Linked DNA regions of Homo sapiens. The protein of the gene in region 1 interacts with the protein of each later gene in a pairwise test. Each region holds a gene or a part of one and is shown on either strand. Other genes may lie near its edges.

What was found.
Region 2: the proteins of NUP214 (region 1) and NUP88 interact in binary tests that used the Homo sapiens proteins (3 or more experiments, as listed by UniProt).

Annotation. Positions count from the first base shown.
Region 1 is NC_000009.12:131,194,212-131,199,630, forward strand, and holds part of NUP214 (nuclear pore complex protein Nup214), read left to right. Parts: intron 1-1,021; coding exon 1,022-1,083; intron 1,084-3,004; coding exon 3,005-4,804; intron 4,805-5,419. UniProt on the Homo sapiens protein: Part of the nuclear pore complex. Has a critical role in nucleocytoplasmic transport.
Region 2 is NC_000017.11:5,391,820-5,395,717, reverse strand, and holds part of NUP88 (nuclear pore complex protein Nup88), read left to right. Parts: intron 1-736; coding exon 737-827; intron 828-3,898. UniProt on the Homo sapiens protein: Component of nuclear pore complex.

The sequences.
Region 1 (5,419 bases):
AAAAAAAGGTGCAGTGGTACAGTCATGGCTCACTACAACCTCCACCCCCAGGACTGAAGTGATCCTCCTGCCTTAGCCCCCCGAATAACTGGGACTACAGGTGCGCGCCACCACACCTGGCTGATTTTTGTTTTTTAATTTTTCGGTTTTGGTTTTTGGGGGTTTTTGTTTTTGTTTGTTTGGTTTTTGGGTTTTTGTTTTTGTTTTGTAGAAACAGGGTTCCACCATGTTGCCTAGGCTGGTCTCAAACTCCTGGGCTCAAAGGATTAACCTGCCTCAGCCTCTCAAAATGCTGGGATGTGAGCCACCATGCCTGGCCTGAGTTTTTATCACAGTGAATAATCTGTTCTGATTCACACTCGCGTGGGATTTTCTTCCTTAGCTATGGTGTCTTCACTTACAGTGTAAAGAAAACGTACAAAAGGAGAGAGGAGATGGTGAAAGGAGTCACAAAGTTTTTGAACTAGATTTTCCTAGCCGTAAAACTCAGTTCTGTCAAAATGACTGAGTTAGGGCTTCTATTTCATTGTATCCATTGTTTTCCCTAGCAGTGTGGGGCTCTCTGACATGCTTGTTGGTCTTGGAGGGGTTCTGAGAGGCTCTCCCTAGTCTTAAGTGCTTCTGTCTTACCAGACCTTCCTTCTGTCCCCTCACTTAACAGACCATCTGCTCCGGCCACCATTCCCACATGCACATTTGTCATGTGTCTCTACTGCTGCAGCTTTGCTCATCTTGCAAGAAGTCCCCACTCAAACTTCTGCTACAGAAAGCCCAGCCATCCCCCAATGGGCTCTCAACTGCTATCCCTGTCGTATCTCACACACAAACTGCTTCTCTGCTTAGAGATCATAGAGTGGCCTTACTGCTTCTGAGATAGGTGCTTTGACTCTGTTGTCATTTATCTTCTAGATTGTAAATTCCTGAGGGCGGTTTGTATGAATGAATGATAAAATGGAATATTAAGAGGGCAATATTGTGCCTTGGTTTGTTCCTTTTTAATTTCTCTTTTTCCACTTGTTAGGACTGGCTTTAATTTTGGGATAATCACACCAACACCGTCTTCTAATTTCACTGCTGCACAAGGTACAGACTCTGTGTTGAGTAGCATTACTCATGTGTTTTCTCTAAATAAGTACAGGTTATTTTTGCCCACATGTTAGTATTTGACTTGTTCCTGAATCTTACTTACAGTATCTGCAATAAGCTCAGTGTTGATAATGTGCATTAGAAATATGCTTAATTTAAGAAACTGATGTGAAGGATTTCTATTTTTATAATTAAGGACAAGGAAAGGATTTGCTTCTAGAAAATCAGGGCTGTGCTTTAACATTTAAATGTTAACATGTGAATTAAAATTTCTCCATTTTTTGTCTGTAATTTAAAATTTCTTCAATTTATAGGGTGATTCTGTAGGGCAAGATAGACATGGTAATAGATAGACTGTAGAAATGAAAGACCAAACTCGTTTTTTTCCTTGATAACATACCAGCAAACACACTCATCCCATGCATGTTGTTAAAAATCCATCAATAGACTGGGCGCGGTGGCTCACGCCTATAATCCCAGCACTTTGGGAGGCCGAGGCAGGCGGATCACCTGAGGTCAGGAGTTCAAGACCAGCCTGACCAACATGGAGAAACCCCGTGTCTACTAAAAATACAAAATTAGCCAGCCGTGGTGGCGCATACCTATAATCCCAGCTACTCAGGAGGCTGAGGCAGGAGAATTGCTTGAACCTGGGAGGCAAGGTTGCAGTGAGCCAAGATTGTGCCATTGCACTCCAGCCTGGGCAACAAGAGTGAAACTCTGTGTGTCCCCCCCCCCCCCCGCGCCAAAAAATCCATCAATAGCATGTTTTTAACATTTAAAAGAATTTGAAGCCCTATAAAGAAACCAGATCTATTTGTTAAGTGCCTTTCAGTTATCCGTTTATGATTAAGTCTTTTATTTTATTTATTTATTTTGAGATGGAGTCTCACTGTTGTCATCCAGGCTGGAGTGTAATGGCGCAATTGCAGTTCACTGCAACCCCCACCTGCTGGGTTCCAGCGATTCTCCTGCCTCAGCCTCCCTAGTAGCTGGGATTACAGGCGCCCACCACCACATCCAGCTAATTTTTGTATTTTTAGTAGAGACAGGGTTTCACCATGTTGATTGATCAGGCTGGTCTCGAACTCCTGACCTCGTGATCCACGTGCCTTGGCCTCCCAAAGTGCTGGGATTACAGGTGTGAGCCACCACGCCCGGCCTCGTTACTCTTGTATTTATTAACCACTGTTGTTTGACCAGGCCTTATGGGTGCTTTACCCATATTTCCTGCGATCTTTGTAACAGCACAATGAAGGTAGGTATTGTAATGATCTAGATTTTCCAAATGGGGGAATTGAGGCTCAGAGAGGTAAAGCAACCTTTCCAGATTCACACAACCAGCGAGTGGCAGAGTGCATAGCTCCAGAGCCCATGTCCTTGACCACCAGACCGTACTGCCTCTGTCAAATAGCTGACTTAGTAGAGCACTAATAAGTAGCCATTAATTGTACATAAAAATGATTTTCTGTGGACTGACACTTTATTTGCTCATAAAAATGAAGGAAGAACTTCCATTTTGAATCAAGTCCTGGTCTATCAGGAGGTCCACAGGCCATTGCTGTGCTGAGGATGTTATTAAGGAAAGCACACAGCTAGGGTAAATTAAGGGAAGAGGCTTTTTTATTTCTCTTTGGGATAATATGTTAATTTCACATATTCTAGATATTTTGTATTTGTTGTGATTTAATGGTCATAAAAAAAGTATTTTTTCCTTTTCACCTCAGACGACTCAGAGCTGATGTTTGTGTGGAGAAGCACTCATTCCACCTCCTTAGAGAAAGCTGCTGTGAGAACAAGGCACCCTGACTCTGTAGAGGGAGGAGAGAAACTTTGGCTTAGAAACACAATCAGTGGAAATGTAATGGGTCATCTTTTGCTAAATCCAACCCATTTTCTGATTTCTTTTTCTTGCTAGGGGCAACACCCTCCACTAAAGAGTCAAGCCAGCCGGACGCATTCTCATCTGGTGGGGGAAGCAAACCTTCTTATGAGGCCATTCCTGAAAGCTCACCTCCCTCAGGAATCACATCCGCATCAAACACCACCCCAGGAGAACCTGCCGCATCTAGCAGCAGACCTGTGGCACCTTCTGGAACTGCTCTTTCCACCACCTCTAGTAAGCTGGAAACCCCACCGTCCAAGCTGGGAGAGCTTCTGTTTCCAAGTTCTTTGGCTGGAGAGACTCTGGGAAGTTTTTCAGGACTGCGGGTTGGCCAAGCAGATGATTCTACAAAACCAACCAATAAGGCTTCATCCACAAGCCTAACTAGTACCCAGCCAACCAAGACGTCAGGCGTGCCCTCAGGGTTTAATTTTACTGCCCCCCCGGTGTTAGGGAAGCACACGGAGCCCCCTGTGACATCCTCTGCAACCACCACCTCAGTAGCACCACCAGCAGCCACCAGCACTTCCTCAACTGCCGTTTTTGGCAGTCTGCCAGTCACCAGTGCAGGATCCTCTGGGGTCATCAGTTTTGGTGGGACATCTCTAAGTGCTGGCAAGACTAGTTTTTCATTTGGAAGCCAACAGACCAATAGCACAGTGCCCCCATCTGCCCCACCACCAACTACAGCTGCCACTCCCCTTCCAACATCATTCCCCACATTGTCATTTGGTAGCCTCCTGAGTTCAGCAACTACCCCCTCCCTGCCTATGTCCGCTGGCAGAAGCACAGAAGAGGCCACTTCATCAGCTTTGCCTGAGAAGCCAGGTGACAGTGAGGTCTCAGCATCAGCAGCCTCACTTCTAGAGGAGCAACAGTCAGCCCAGCTTCCCCAGGCTCCTCCGCAAACTTCTGACTCTGTTAAAAAAGAACCTGTTCTTGCCCAGCCTGCAGTCAGCAACTCTGGCACTGCAGCATCTAGTACTAGTCTTGTAGCACTTTCTGCAGAGGCTACCCCAGCCACCACGGGGGTCCCTGATGCCAGGACGGAGGCAGTACCACCTGCTTCCTCCTTTTCTGTGCCTGGGCAGACTGCTGTCACAGCAGCTGCTATCTCAAGTGCAGGCCCTGTGGCCGTCGAAACATCAAGTACCCCCATAGCCTCCAGCACCACGTCCATTGTTGCTCCCGGCCCATCTGCAGAGGCAGCAGCATTTGGTACCGTCACTTCTGGCTCATCCGTCTTTGCTCAGCCTCCTGCTGCCAGTTCTAGCTCAGCTTTCAACCAGCTCACCAACAACACAGCCACTGCCCCCTCTGCCACGCCCGTGTTTGGGCAAGTGGCAGCCAGCACCGCACCAAGTCTGTTTGGGCAGCAGACTGGTAGCACAGCCAGCACAGCAGCTGCCACACCACAGGTCAGCAGCTCAGGGTTTAGCAGCCCAGCTTTTGGTACCACAGCCCCAGGGGTCTTTGGACAGACAACCTTCGGGCAGGCCTCAGTCTTTGGGCAGTCGGCGAGCAGTGCTGCAAGTGTCTTTTCCTTCAGTCAGCCTGGGTTCAGTTCCGTGCCTGCCTTCGGTCAGCCTGCTTCCTCCACTCCCACATCCACCAGTGGAAGTGTCTTTGGTGCCGCCTCAAGTACCAGTAGCTCCAGTTCCTTCTCATTTGGACAGTCTTCTCCCAACACAGGAGGGGGGCTGTTTGGCCAAAGCAACGCTCCTGCTTTTGGGCAGAGTCCTGGCTTTGGACAGGGAGGCTCTGTCTTTGGTGGTACCTCAGCTGCCACCACAACAGCAGCAACCTCTGGGTTCAGCTTTTGCCAAGCTTCAGGTAAGAATTTGTGGAAGCTTTTTACTTGTTTCCCTCTCTGCTATTTGAAACATTAGCAACAGACCCCTATTACTTTTGTAATTAAAGGGGAGACTCAAAACCCAAAAATAATCTGTAGGTTAAAGAAGACAGCTTGGAGCACATGTGGTCTCAGGAACTTGTTTGGCCTAATTGGCTGGATCTGTTACAGCTTAATGCAGCTCCAGTTTTGCTTCTTAGCAAATTGTCCACTCTGCAAGCCACCAGAGTGTGTTTCATGGGGAAAAATCAAGCATCTTTAGTTGAGGTCCTGCCAAGTAATTTAATGAACAATAAATAGGAAATTTCAAATTTGGAAGGCACTGTAGAGATCATTATACCCAAAGCTGTCAAGCCTCAAGGAGACTGCTCTAATGTCAGGATAGTGCCAGTGGAACCAGCAGGAGAGTCCAAGTGTCATCATAGTCCACCGCCCTGCCAGTGTTTTCTGTCTCCTCTGACACCATCTTTCTTACTGTAATGGCAGTCACTGACATTTGATTTGGGTTCTTTTCTATTTTCAGTGTTATGACTTTTTGTAAAAACTACAGTTTACTGTTTTTGACAGTGAAACCTAATTCTTCTCTATTGCATTTT
Region 2 (3,898 bases), on another chromosome or scaffold:
CGTGAAACCCTGTCTACTACTAAAACCTGGGCGTGGTGGCGTCCACCTGTAGTCCCAGCTACTCAGGAGGCTGACGCAGGAGAATCACTTAAACCCAGAAGCCGGAGGTTGCATTGAGCAGAGATTGGGCCACTGCGCTCCAGCCTGGGCAACAGAGGGAGACTCCATCCAAAAAAAAATAAAGCTGTTATAAATTGAGTATCCCTACTCTGAAAAATTTGAAATCCAAAACTTTTCTTTTTTCCATCCTTGAACCTGAGTGAGCTACAAAAGTTTTTGAGTGCTGTCATGACAACAGAAATGCTCATTGGAGCATTTAGGATTTTAGATTTTCAGATAAGAGATGTTCAACTACTAAGTATAATGCACATATTCCAAAATCCAAAAAAAAAATGTGAAATCCAAAACACTTCTGATCCCAAGCATTTTGGATAAAGGATACTCAACCTTTATGAAAATAAAATCAGTGTGGGTAAGCAGCACCCTAGAAGAGAATGATTTCACTGTTCTTAGTGAAACATTTTTGCATTCAGAGACATTACGAAGGAAAATCCTACTTCTTGGGGCGGAAATCTAGACCCCCTGGGAAAGCGTATGCCTATGTCAGAAAAGCATAGTACTTGAGAAGCAATGTTTTCAGACAAGAACCTCACTGCATTTAACCCAATATCATTAGCATTTTAATTTGGAGACTTGTCTAAGCATCATTTCATTTATGTAATGTCTTCCATGGTAGATGAAGAAGATAAGGATAGTTTACAGGAACTCTCTACAGAACAGAAATGCTTTGTTGAACACATCCTTTGTACGAAGCCATTGCCCTGCAGGTAAGGACTCTCCCTCCCTTGTATATCAGAAAACAATTGTTCATTTCAGCAGTTCAGATACGTTTGTATCCGTTACACTCACATCCACAGTATTCACTGCTGAGTCATTTGAAAGTTGCAGACGTGATACTTCTCCCCTAAGAGTGTCCTGCTCATCAGAAGCTTTCTCCTCTCCAGGGCCACTCGACATACTGTTTCCTGACTGGAAGGTCCTTCCCCAGCCCCAGCCCCAGCCCCAGCTTGCTGTCTTCTCTTGGCTAACTCCTACCCTTCTTTCTGATCTTAATGTCACTTCTTCACAGAGAACACCCTTGACTCCCCAGTCTAACTTGGGGCTCTCCTATTCTCTTATCCATTGTAGCACATATTACACTATTTATATTTGCATTTTTTTAATGTCTGTCGCCACTACCGGAATGTATATGTTTCATGAGAGCAGAGACTGTGTCTGCCCTTCACTGCATTGCTGTGTTTATTTGATGTGGTTGCCCATGTCTCCTCTTTGAAACACATTCTCCTTGGCATCCTTGACGTCTGTCCCTCCAGGTTCTCCTTCAGTCCCGCCAGCAGCCCTTTTCTCAAGTTTCCTTCTTGGGCGGGTTCCTCTGCCTCTACTCACTGCTTATAAGTAATGCTCACAACTCTTTCCTTGGGTCTTCTCTATTCTTTCTAGGTCCTTTCCTGAGTAACTTCTGCCGTAATCATGGCTTCAGTGCTGACAGTTCCCGCATCCATATCGCCCTAGCCCAGACCACTCTGAACTCCAGATTCACATACCCAGCTGCCTACTGGGCTCCTCCACTTGGATATCCTATAGGAACATAAAACTCCAGATGTCCCCTTAACTCATCTTCTGTCTTTCCAAATCTGCTCTCTCTCCTGTGTCCCATTTTTCTGAAGGGTGCCATATCACCCCAGTTATCCCCAGTAGAAACCTGGAAGGTATTCTAGATACCTCCCTTTATTCTGTTCATCAATTACTAGATATCTCATAAGCACTCTGTTAGACATGGAGTATACACAGACATGAGACAAATAGCATACACTAAGAAATAGACATAATCTAGGTTTGGCAATACAGAGGACCACAGGGAAAACGCTTGGTGGGGAATGAGAAGGATAGCAAACTGTACCAGCTTGAAAAGTGAACAGTGAAACCAGGCACTGTGGCTTACGCCTATAATCCCAGCATTTTGGGAGATCGAGGTGGGTGGATCACACGGTCAGGAGTGCAAGACCAGCCTGGCCAAGATGGTGAAACCCCATCTCTGCTAAAAACTACAAAAATTAGCCAGGCATGGTGGCAGACACCTGCAATCCCAGCTACTCGGGAGGCTGAGGCAGGAGAATTGCTTGAACCCGGGCAGCACAGGTTGCAGTGAGCTGAGATCATGCCACTGCACTCCAGTCTGGGTGACAGAGTGAGACTCCATCTCAAAAAAAAAAAAAAAAAAAGAAAAGTGAACAAGGAAAATACATAATAAAATCCCATGTAGGCTGGGCATGGTGGCTTACACCTATAATCCCAGCACTTTGTCAGGTGAGGCAGGAGGATCACTTGAGGCCAGGAGTTTGAGACCAGCCTGGGCAACATAGTGAGACCCTTTACAAAAAAATTTAAAAATTAGCTAGGTGAGGCCAGGCGTGGTGGCTCACGCCTGTAATCCCAGCACTTTGGGAGGCTGAGGCAGGCGAATTACTAGGTCAGGAGTTCGAGACCAGCCTGGCCAACGTGGTGAAACCCCGTCTCTACTAAAATACAAAAAAAAAATTAGCTGGGTGTAGTGGCGGGCACCTGTAATCCCAGCTACTCAGGAGGCTGAGGCAGGAGAATCGTATGACCCTGGGAGGTGGAGGCTGCAGTGAGCCAAGATCATGTCACTGCACTCCAGCCTGGGCAACAGAGTGAGACTCCGTCTCAAACAAAAAAAAAAATTAGCCACTGTGGTAGCATGTACCTGTGGTCCCAGCTACTCAGGAGGCTGAGAAGGAAGGATTGTTTGAGCCCACGAGGTCAAGGCTGCAGTGAGTCGTGATCGCACTATTGCACTCCAGCCTCGGCAACAGAGTGAGACCCTATCTCAAAAAAACCCCAAAATCCCATTTATATCAATTTCAGAAACAGGTAAAATTAAACAGTCTTGCCTAGGAGTGAATACATAGATAGGAAAACTATAAAGCAAAGCAAAGACATGATATTATGAATGTCAGAGTAGCGGCTACTTCTCTGGGGAGTGAAAGGCTATGACCAGGGAAGGTCGCATGGGAACCCTGAGGCCCCCTGCAGTGTCCTGATTCTTGACCTGGATACTGGTTACATAGTGTATAGCCCAGTAGTGTGTAGATTTCACACTGATAATAAAAAGTTAAAGTTTACAACCTTCCAGATATCGTCTCCATGTCTTGTCCAAAAAGGTAAATGGGAGCTATGGAAGGGGAACTAGTGTTTTCAACTGCTGTTTAAAGACTGCTGGTTCTAAAGGGATGGCGAGAAAGAATAGGTTAAGGGGAACTGGACATTATATTGAAATGAGAGTATTTTAAATGGAAGAGACATGAGTTTGCAAGCTGAGGGGAAGTAGATAATAGGGAGATTTTGAAACGACACAGTTGATGGTACAATTTTCAGAAGGTGTGAGAGGAGGCGGCATCCACATTCGGGGGCAGATGTGTGTTGTAGGCATGCAGGTGGGATGGGCATGGGAGCCGCTAGGAGAGCATGTTGGCAGAATGACAGTTCCCATCTGAGGTCTCAGTTTCCAGTGTCTTCACTGAAGTGGGAAGGAAGACTGAGAGAGATACACGCTGTGCGTGCCAAGTGATTTCCTGTGACATTGACATTGGGCCTCATTGAGAGAGACTCGGTAGTTCTGTTCATTCAACAGTTTCTAAGCACTTAATTTGTTAGCACTGGGCTAGGCAAACAAAGATAGCTGGGGCTTATGTGCAAGTTGGAGAGATCTTCAGTGTAACGTGTAACTTTTGAGATTACAGTCAGCAGCACGCTACAGTTAGGGATTCCTGAGTGACTTAGTCACATGGGCTCTAGACTTTAGTGTGGAGCTGCATTA